Linked DNA regions of Homo sapiens: region 1 is linked to region 2. The links come from fine-mapping of genetic effects on gene expression. A gene starts in region 2. The other region holds a variant in brackets. All regions are shown on one strand. Distances are between the middles of the regions.

Region 1 (5,383 bases), 170 kb after region 2:
AGTGAATTTTACGTCTAAACTCACAAACACAGTGGAAAGGCTTGCCTCTCTATCCCACTCTATCTTTTTTCCAACTTAGGCTCTGTATTCATCTTAGTAACTTAATGGACCATAACACTACGGTGTCTAATATTGCCAACCCCAACAGACCGTTCGCTGCTCTAAAACGATAGGAGAGTTCTAACCATTTTGTATCCCCACAGCACTGACCAAAGTATAGGGTTGTGCTTTTCAAATTAAATGAAGATACAGATGCCAGGGCCTCATCCCAGACTGACTGACTGAAAATCTCAGAGTAGGAAACTGTATTTTTCAAAAGCTTCCCCAGTGATTCCAATGAGAAGCCTGCTTTAGAAATCACTGGTTGGCCAGGTGCAGTGGCTCATGCCTGTAATCCCAGTATTTTGGAAGGCTGAGGCAGGTAGATCACCGGAGGTTAGGAGTTTGAGAGCAGCCTAGTAAATATGGTGAAACCCCATCTCTATTAAAAATACAAAAAATTAGCCAGGCATGGTGGCGGGCACCTGTAATCCCAGATACTTGGGAGGCTGAGGCAGGAGAATCACTGGAACCCAGGAGGCAGAGGTTGCAGTGAGCCGAGATCATGCCACTGCACTCCAGCCTAGGCAACAAGAGTAAAACTCCATCTCAAAAAAAAAAAAAAAAAAATTAGCCGGGCGTGGTGGCACATGCCTATAATTCCAGCTACTCAGGAGGCTGAGGCAGGGAGAATTGCTTGAACTGGGAGGCAGAGGTTGCAGTGAGCCAAGATCGCACTCCAGCCTGGGCACCAGAGCAAGACTCCATATTAAAAAAAAAAAAAGAAAGAAAGAAACCACTGGTTAAGCAGAGCCACAGAGCCACAGTAGGTGCTCAATTTGTTGAATGCACATTGAAATCTACCTGGTTGGTAGACCGAGTTAGAAAACAAAAGGGAAATGCACGCTCTCTCTGTGTTAAAATTACTAAACCATCTAGCTGTCTTGACCTCAGGAGCAAAGCCTCATCTGTCTTCCTGTCTTCCTCATTATCAGGTTGGGTTTTGTTTGTTTTTTTTTTTTTTTCTAGAATGGCTGTATTTGCCCTTCTTAACCACTCAGTTAAGAACATGATCATGCCAAATTCCTTCACCAGCTTTAAAGTACAGAGAAAGGGGCTCTGCTATTAAGGATGCCAGACCAGCCTAAGGATAGGAAGATACAGCATCTGGGCGCAGTGGCTCACGCCTGTAATCCCAGCACTTTGGGAGACCAAGGACGGCAGATTGCTTGAGGTCAGGAGTTTGAGACCAGCCTGGGCAACATGGTGAAACCCCGTCTCTACTAAAAATAGAAAAATTAGCCGGGCGTGGTGGCACGTGCCTGTAGTCCCAGCTACTCAGAAGGCTGAGGCTGGAGAACTGCTTGAACCGGGGAGGCAGAGGTTGCAGTGAGCTGAGATTGTGCCACTGCACTCCAGCCTGGGTGACAGAGCGAGACTCTGTCTCAAAATAAATAAGTAAATAGGAAGATATAGCAATCTGTGCCCTTGGTCAGTCAAATATTTTATGATACACATTTTCTAGGTTCATTTCAAGTCCAGAATGCGCTGACATGATGGGGAAGGGGAGGATTAAAATGCACAAGCGAGAAGAAAGGAGGGACAGAATTCTTCTGGGCCTTTTTCTAATCTGTGCTTTTCCTGAGCCTATGCTGGAGAAGGGAGCCGTCCTTGGCTCCGTGCCCTTGGCCTGCTAATGTCGACAATAGTTCCCGTGATCCAGACAAGTCTTGCAGTTTATAACACAGGCAAGAGATATGATATTGCAGCCACTTTGGCTCTATTCTCTCTCCACGACAGGCATGTGATTGCTGCACAAAGGAGGGAGAAATGCAGCCATCGGCTGCAGAGACAGAGAGGAGGCCGGGAGGAAAGGGTGAGTCTTTGGTTGTGATGAAGACATTTTAAATCGGGAGAGTGAGACATAAATGTCAGAGCAGCTCTCCTCTTCATGGCCTGAAAATCTGCAACAGCAAACAAGAAATGGTTCGGCGGTGGAAGGAGGTTAATGGGCCACGGCTCTATGCCCAGGCCTAGCTGGGTGGCCCTGAGCCATCACAGGGTCCTTCACCAAGGGAGGGGAGAAATTCTGAACTTGGGCCATATAAGAAGGGCCAACAGCATGGATAGCTTTAATACAGTCAGGATTCCTCCAACTTTAGTATGCCAGAATCATCTAGAGATCTTGTTAAGAACTTAGATTCCTGGGCCCCACCACCCACGGTGGTCTTTGACCTACCACCAGACATGACCCAAAGCTCTGGAGTTCCAGTGGGCGGGGAGAAGCTGGAGTCTTCTTTCTGCTGTTTACCCATCATTATAAAATGCCACAGAGTCCACTTCTTGGCCTCCTAGCAGGCTTGCCAGCCAAGGCTTGCTTGCCCCTTAACTAACAGTGGGATAATGAATCTCCAGCAGGGCTGAGTTGCCCCAGAAACTTAAGTTCTTGTTAAGTCTGCACTGGCAGGAGCTGTGTTCTCGTTTGGAAATAGTTGGCCGGCCTGGGCTAGTTCA[T/C]GGGGAAATTCAGCCCTGGGTTTGCATCAGGAAAGCGGCTGATACTTGAGAACTCACTGAAAATGTGACCAGGATTAGATTACTCCCTTTGAGCTGGTCAGGTCAGATTTCCAGATGCAGCGGAGGCCATTTGGGGACAAGCCTTCCAATGGCCTACCTGATCACAGGCAGTGTTCTACTTTAGACCATCACACTGCCCTGCAAAGAAAGAAAGAGCGTGCGTATCTCTGTGTGTGAGTAGGGGTGCGAGTGTGGGTACTCAGGAGTATAGGCCTGAGGCACACTGTGTGCTGAGGTGTACAGCAGCCATGGATCTCAACGGAAGCACATGTGTAGGGCTCTGTGCAGGTCACTGCTTGTTTTATTCTTCCTTTTGGGGAAGAAAAAACCTTCCTACTTTCTCAGCATTGACCAAGCATCTCCTCTATTTTAAGCACCATGGGAGACATAAAGGCCCTGATATATCAGAATTTACAGCCTAGCTAGAGAATTTTGCAACAGAGGGCTGCATTTTACTCTATTTCTTTCTAATCCATTTCCAATCTATTTTACTCCAATCTTAATCTATTTCATCCACTCAGACAGTGCCCAGACCACCCCCCTTTTAGCCATATTTTTTCAACAGCTATTATGTGCCCAGTATTGTGCCAGGTGCTGGGGGTATACAAAAGAAGCCTACTAAGTAATTAGGGAGCCAAGTATATCTTGTATAAAACCAACAGGAAAAGAAAATGAAACAAATTTATGATGCCAATAATATGTATGAAACCCAAAGACCTTTCTCCCCAGCCACAGTTTTTCTCAAATTAGAGTAATGAATACTGTATTCAAAGAAAAAATTTTCAGGAACCTTCCAGTTTCACTTAAAAATTGTCATGTTACTCGAATGTGTATAAATATGAAACCTGGAATAATTTTTTAATTTACAAATAAATACCAAATAAAATTTATAAATTACTTACTCAAAAAAAAAGCCTTCTGAAAAAAATCAATATTCAAATTAACATTAATTTAATGATACTGTTTTGCTGCAACAAAATTGTTAGTCTTGGATTTAATAGTAGGAAAAGCCTCAGGTCTTTCTTTAATTCGTGTTGTAGTTTGGCTTTTATAATACTAATTCAGAGAGGGCCTGTTCATATAAAAGAACTGCTCAAAGTTATATTCATGGTTTCAAGGCTTTGTCTGCTAGTTCAGAATAATCAGACCTCATACTTATACTTAACCAAAACTTCCCCACATGTAATCCTCAAATGCCTATTTCAGTGATTGATCTTCTGATAACACCATGAAGCTGTCTCATTCCGTTGAAGATAAGATTAACATTATGACACTCTTCCATCTGCTTTAAATTTAATCTCATCATTACCTGTATTAGAAGAAAAACTATTCATTATAAATTTACTTATTTACTTATTTATTTAGAGACGGAGTCTCGCTCTGTAGCCTAGGCTGGAGTGCCATGGCGTGATCTCGGCTCACTGCAATCTCCACCACCCGGGTCCCGGTTTAAGCAATTCTCCTGCCTCAGCCTCTCGAGTAGCTGGGATTACAGGCATGTGCCACCATGCCCAGCTAATTTTTGTATTTTTAGTAGAGACGGGGTTTCACCATGTTGGCCAGGCTGATCTTGAACTCCTGACCTCATGATCCACCCTCCTTGCCCTCCCAAAGTGCTGGGATTACAGGCATGAGCCACCTCGCCTGGCCTCCTATATTTATTTTTAATGAACTGCAAGTTGCAAAGTACAGTCGAGCCACACAGTGTATCTATTTGTACGTGAAACTGCAATGGTGCAGATCCTTTGGTGTTCAGCATCCCGGCACCACAGTAAGCTACGAGATGACAAAGTTCTACCTCATCTCCTTATCTGAAACTCCAAAGCTTCATCCGTGCAGCCACTGTGATTTCTTGTCTTTTACCTGGTACAAATGGGATTTGGGCACAAAAGTACAAATGCAAGCACAAAAATATTATGACAAATTTTGGTTAAAGAATGGCTAGTCAGAAGATCTTAGATTAACAGTTTTAGATTTTCACTGAAGTAAAATCATAAAGCTAAAAATTAAAGAAACTGCAACTCCCTGTGAATGCTGAGCTGCATTCATAACCCTCCATTCTGACCATCCATCTCCCCACTTTCTCCATGCCAGGCCACGCAGGGCTACGTCTCACAAGAACTGGGTCAGTTAAAAGAATGAACTCAACGTCTACATGAGGGAAAGGGATAAAGCTGAGCACCAAGTAAATAGGACTTTCCCAGGCTCCAAAAGGAGAGCATCTAAAATATGAGTACCTCCACATAGGTGCCCCTGAATTGTACCCCTTCATTACCCACCTGGAACCCTTGACCCAGAATTCCTGTATCTCTCCTCAGACCATTGCCTTTCATCAAAACTCCCAAACTGGAATCTCTATTTGCCTTTGGGAAAAACAAACTGTTCACCAAAAGGGACCTCGGTGTCTACCATCATCTTCCTTCTCCCCTTAATTCACTTCCCAAGTCTAAATCACTTCGTCTGGAGGAGACTCTCGGGAATTCTAGATAATTGTGACAGCCATTGCTATGGTTTGAATGTTTGTGTCCCCTCCATAATTCGTATTCAAACATGCAACACTGTTAAGAGATGGGGCCTTGAGGAGGTGATTAGGCCATGAGGGCTCTGCCCTCGTGAGTGGATTAGTGTCTTATAAAAGGGCTGGAGGGGGTAGGCGAGGTGGCTCACACCTGTAATCCCAGCACTTTGGGAGGCAGAAGTGGGTGCATCACCTGAGGTCAGGAGTTCAAGACCAGCCTGACCAACATCATGAAACCCCATCTCTACAAAA
Region 2 (5,383 bases):
ATAGGCCAAAATTAGTTACATGATATTATTCAACTACAAGCCAGGAAGAGCAGTTCTCTCTTGTGCCCAGAATGGCAGACAAAGGAATTATTTGTTTAACACCATGAATACTTACCAAAATAGGTAAACAAAAAAGATAATTAAAATACTTGTGACATGTGCTGTAAATGGGGGAAAAGCTGGGCCCTGTAAGTAATTGAAGGACCTATTTAAAGTGGGTGGTCTGGGAGGTCTCTCTGAAGGTTTGCATTGAAACCTCAAAAGTCAGATGGAGTGAACAAGACTTAGATGAAGAACATTCCAGAGAAGAAACAAGAAGCATAAAGGCCTTAGGGTGGAATGAGCTTGGTTTAGCTTGAAACTGACAGAAGACAAGATATTTCAAAATCAAAGAAACAATGGGGGTGGCAAGGGACTGTCATGAGATAGGAGATACTATCACCTACCATCAGCAGTCAGTGCACAGAAGGCCCTGAAGGCCATATCAAGTAGTTAGGATTTTAACCTACCTGCAATAGGAAGCCTTTGAAAGGCCTTAGGACAACAAGTGCATGTTTAAGTTTTAAAAGAGTAACTCCCAAAGTGGGGAATTATCTAGAAAAGGATGAGTGAAAATAGGACACCAACAGGGAGGCTATCATAGCACATAGCATCATAGCAGTGTAGACAGAGATGACAGTGACAGGGATGGGGGATATGTGAGGGTGCAGGGAGTAGTAATAGTGAAGATGGCAAGAAATGAACAAATTTAAGACATATTTTGAAATATTTACTGATGGATTGAATAAGAGAAAAGTTGAGAATGGGAAGAGTGATTATGACTCCCATGTTTCTGGTTTTAGTGATAGGGTGGTTGGCAGCGCCATTTACAGAGATATGTGGGGGACAACTAGGTTTAACATCTACAGGAGACCAGATCCTATTCTGGACATGTTAAGTTTGAGAAATCCAAATGAGTAAGAAGTTAAATATAAGAATAGATCACATAGGAAAAGTCTAGTTAAAGATTTTTTTTTTAGATGATCTTGCTCTGTCACCCAGGCTGGAATGCAGTGGTGCCATCATAGCTTACTGTGGCCTCAAACTCCAGGGCTCAAGTAATCCTCCTGCCTCAGCTTCCCAAGTAGCTGGGAAGGCAGAAGTCCGCCACTGTACCCAACTAATTTTTTTAATCTTTGTGTTTTGTAGAGATGGTGTCTCATTTTGTTGCCCTGGCTGGTCTCCAACTCCTGGCTTCAAGCGATCTTCCAGCCTTGTCCTCCCAAGGTGCTAGGATTACAGGCATGAGCCACTGCACCCGGCCAAAGATATAAATCAAGAGCTCTCAGCATGATGTAACTCAGAAATCACACAGGTGGGAGTGTGTTGGAGAAGAGATGGAGATTCTAGGACTTGCCTAACAAATTCCCCCTTGAGATTTGTTTCCAGAAATCGTATCACTATTGGGTATGTGGATTTGTATTTCTAATTATCAGGGAGTAAAATTAACAAATGACAATCTAGGTAGATGTTAATATTTGGAGGGATTTCTTCTGATTTGAAACCCATTTGCTATTCTACTCTAAATGATAGCAAAAAAAAAAAAAATACATTTCCAAACACTATTGACATCCCCATTTTACACAAGTGGAAAACTGAAGCAGAAGGGGGTTCAGTAACTTGCCCAAGAAGACACAAAATTAGCAAGAAGTGGGACCTGTATCGCAAACTAAACAATTTGGCTCCAGAGTCTGTTTGGAACCCCTACACTGTACGGCAATGGTGGTAAAGTAGCTTAGTTAATGTGTTTAGTGGGTTACAAATAATAGATTATATATATGAGTTTTATATATAGTAATAGTTATATATGTATATATATTATACGTATATTTCTAGCTCCAATAAGAGCTTTTATTGGATCTATGTTCATGTGCGCATGCCTGGATCATTAGGGTTGTGAGGAACAATTCAAGTGGTAGCTATGCACTATGGCATTACAACTAAACCCTAGGAAGAACAGAACTGACTTCACCAGAACAGTCCTGAAGTTTCAAACCATTAAAAACAAACAGTAAATTTAAAAAACGCAAATTGTACTAGACAGTTTGGTTTGCTCCACTTTACGGCATCAAACTGAATGCCTGGACGTCATTTGCTGGTCAGGAAGATGAGTTAATTTTTTTTTTCCTGCCACACACTTAAGTTTTTTGCTCCAGGGAACATTATACATAGTGTTAACACACTCAATTTACATTGTAGTTTTAGTGTTGAAGATTTCCTGGAGGGCAGGAATAGCGTTATTCCATCGTTTTTAGCCCAGTCAGACTGGATGACGGAGAGAGGGAGGGGTGAAAAGGAGGGAGGGAAGGGGAAAAGGCAAGGAAGAAGGAATTCAAATTAAACACTCTTCCTATACATTTTTAGAAGCTGAGCAAGATGCCCTCCAAGATTATGTTTTTTAAAAAGTAAAGTTTTTCCCATTAATGGTGGTGCAGAAGCGTCCTAATCCCATCGAAAGTACTCTCACTCTTCCTCCATTCGCTGTCTTGACCTCCCCCGGGCCTCCTTCATTCTGCCTCCCAGTCCCGCCCACTTGTCGCCGGCTCCTACCCTCCACTCTAGCCTTCCCGGCAGCCTGTACATTGCGCATGCGCACTAGTGGCGTTCGCGCCGCGGACCCAGAGAGAGGCGTTCCGCGGAGGAGAAGAGGAAGAGGAAGTTGGGGGAGGGTCCTAGCGGGGAGTGAACCGGAAGTGTAAAGGTTCCTGCCTCTCCTCGGCCAGGCGGAACCTCTCTGCTGGGCCCGGTGGCCGCAAAAGAACTTTCTTTCTCCCGCCCGAACGGTCGCCGCGGCCAACTGCCTCGCCCGCCTGGCAGCCTAACCCTCCTTCTCTTCTTCTCCTCTCCGGCTTCGCGCGGCCCTGCCTCCCTCTCGCCCGGCGGCATCCGCTTGCTGCTGCCACCGCCTCCTCATCTTCTGCCCGGCCAACCGGCCTGCCCCGCTGCAGTGATGTGCGACAAGGAGTTCATGTGGGCCCTGAAAAACGGAGACTTGGATGAGGTGAAAGACTATGTGGCCAAGGTAAGCGGGGATGAGAAGAGTAGGCGAGAACACGGAGGTGGGCTGGAGATGAGGCTGAGGAAGCTGATGGGAGCTGGACTGCGGGGATGGGGGTGGGCGGGAGGAGAGACTTCCTGGGTGGAGGCGGCACCAAGGAGAGAGGGGCGTCTAGGGAGGAGCTAAACTGAAAGAAGGGTCCAGGTAACTTGGTAGCGTTCTGTGTCAGGTAACTGCTGCGTTAATACAGTTAGGCGCTACCTGACTTCCTGGCCTCTTGGGGGAGGGGAGGAGTGGTGTCTGGCTCATCCAGAGTTTCTTCTGCGCACTGATCATTTGAGTTTGGCCCTCTTCTACACCAAAGTTACTTAAACCTTTCTTTGAATGAGGTAATTCTCCATCTTGGACTTACCCATTACTAAATGAAGTAACCTAAGTAATTAGGATCAGAGGAACATGTTTTTTAACTCTCGGCCTGGTGTGAAGTTGAAGAATTCATTGACCGTGAAAAGAGTACCGAAAATAGAAATAGTTAAAATTCTGAAACTGAGTATCACTTCACTGTGGTGTCTTAACTTTGGGTGTGGCCTTTTTCCTTTCCCCCACCACAACAAATACATATTTGCTTCAAGTGGTAAGGTTGTCAACTGGCATCTGGGAATGTTTAAGGTATCTGAATAGTTTTTAAACAAGCATGTTAACTTCAGTTATTCCATTCTTCTCCCTGATTTCACCTGAAATGCTTACATGTGTAGTAAATAGCAATGCAGTTTAGTGGCAGTGTATTTGGGGGGTAAAATCATGATGAAGAAAGACAAACTCAAACCTCAGCCCCAAATATAAAACTGAATCGACATTGTGGCAGAGTGGGAAACTTAAAATTCCAAGCTAGCCTGTCTTTCCATCCTGAAACTGTGCCTTTGTAATTATGAGAGAACTTAACATGTGATTTTAATTTAGTGATAATCTAAAATGAATCTTCCAAAACAAGTATAATTTTATGACAACCACGGATGGCATCTTGCTCACCTTCTAAAAGTGTGAGAACCCAGTCTAGATTTTAACTCTTCAAAGAATAGGACCTGACCTGGGTTTTTGCTTCAGAGGCTGTGTTAGGAAGCAAGTAAGCGAAGCAGTTTCTTAAAACTTACAGGATTGTGCAAGGCAAACTGCTGAAGGTTTTTACTTTATTTAATGCCATTACAATTTAGACTTTTTGGATGCTGCTTACCTGCTTAGTTTTTTGCAGTGGAGTTTTAGGACAGGCTGTCTTCTCGTCACTGCCTTCTCAGCTGGTAGCCAACTGAAACTTGACTTATTGGCTATTTCAATATAAAGCTAAAAGGTAGAAATTATTTGGTACACTTACCAGTGGTGGGACACTGCAATACTCTGGAAGTAAGTGGGCTTTTGTTTTCCTGTCATGGTGGAACCTAGGTTGTTTGATATACTTGAAATACAAAAAGTTGATTAAGTACTAACTGAACTTACAGCTACCAAAATAACACAATGTATTTAGTGTTTTCCTGACACATTATTTTATGTCATCCTTGTGAATACTGGGAAGTAAGTCCTATTATTGGTCCCATTTTACAGATTACTGAGATGCAGGATACTTAAGAAAAGTTATGGAGATGGTAAATTGTGAAGCAAGAACTAAATTGCTGACTCCAAAACTGAAACTCTTTAACTGCTCCACGCACTATCTCTCAGTCTAAGATCTAATTGTGAAAGCGTATCATACCAAGATTTCTAGTAGGACATTCCCAGGGTCCACATTCAGGCAGGTAAATTGTGCCCAAAGAATTCTCAACTACACAAAAATATTTATATGAAAATATATGCCAATAAAGATGGATTAATTTATTTCCAATTAGTTTTATAATTAGGTTAGGTTATCATGTTCAATTTGATTATTTTCCCTATATTACTACCGTAGCCTGTTCTTCATTAATGTAAAAAATTTGCATAAGAGGGAGGGTAGACATTCAGAAAAAGCAAAAGGGAGTATTGAAAGTTGGACTATCCAAAAAGATATGACTGTAACTGTAATGTAATCTGATGTACAGAGCATTGAGCTTTATCCTTTCTTAGTTTTGAAGATTTCATAAAGTATCTTTCACTTTGTTAATGAGAAATAATAACAAGAACTGAAGTTTATACTGACTCAGCTCCCTTACGGTGCCCATTTATACTTTCAGGTCCTTATTACAGTTTCTTCTGCCCCACAGCTGTCTTCCCTGCTTATTTATTGACTCACATTTTTCATCTACCAATTTGTGAACACTCACTTTTTGAGTTTCTGTAATGTGCATCTATCTGAGTAGGTGTGTACAAAGAAAATAC

Which allele goes with the higher level. Positions count from the first base shown, and alleles are read on the strand shown. Sizes are in standard deviations (SD) of each study's normalised expression.
With allele T in place of C in region 1, the expression in skeletal muscle of the gene that starts at base 2,731 in region 2 is higher (small effect, 0.30 SD a copy in GTEx).

What was found. PIP is the estimated chance that this variant, and not a neighbour inherited with it, causes the effect.
Region 1: its variant is the best candidate, but not a certain one, in a credible set for the expression of MTPN in skeletal muscle (GTEx, PIP 0.88).

The regions. Positions count from the first base shown.
Region 1 is chr7:135,805,577-135,810,959 of GRCh38, reverse strand. No RefSeq gene overlaps it. Among named protein-coding and RNA genes, the nearest start is that of FAM180A, 59 kb to the right of the region's middle. The variant T/C (reference allele first, on the strand shown) is at 2,554.
Region 2 is chr7:135,974,707-135,980,089 of GRCh38, reverse strand. It overlaps MTPN (myotrophin), which reads left to right and starts at 2,731. Exons shown (of 4, transcript NM_145808.4): 1 at 2,731-3,061. The coding sequence starts at 2,990.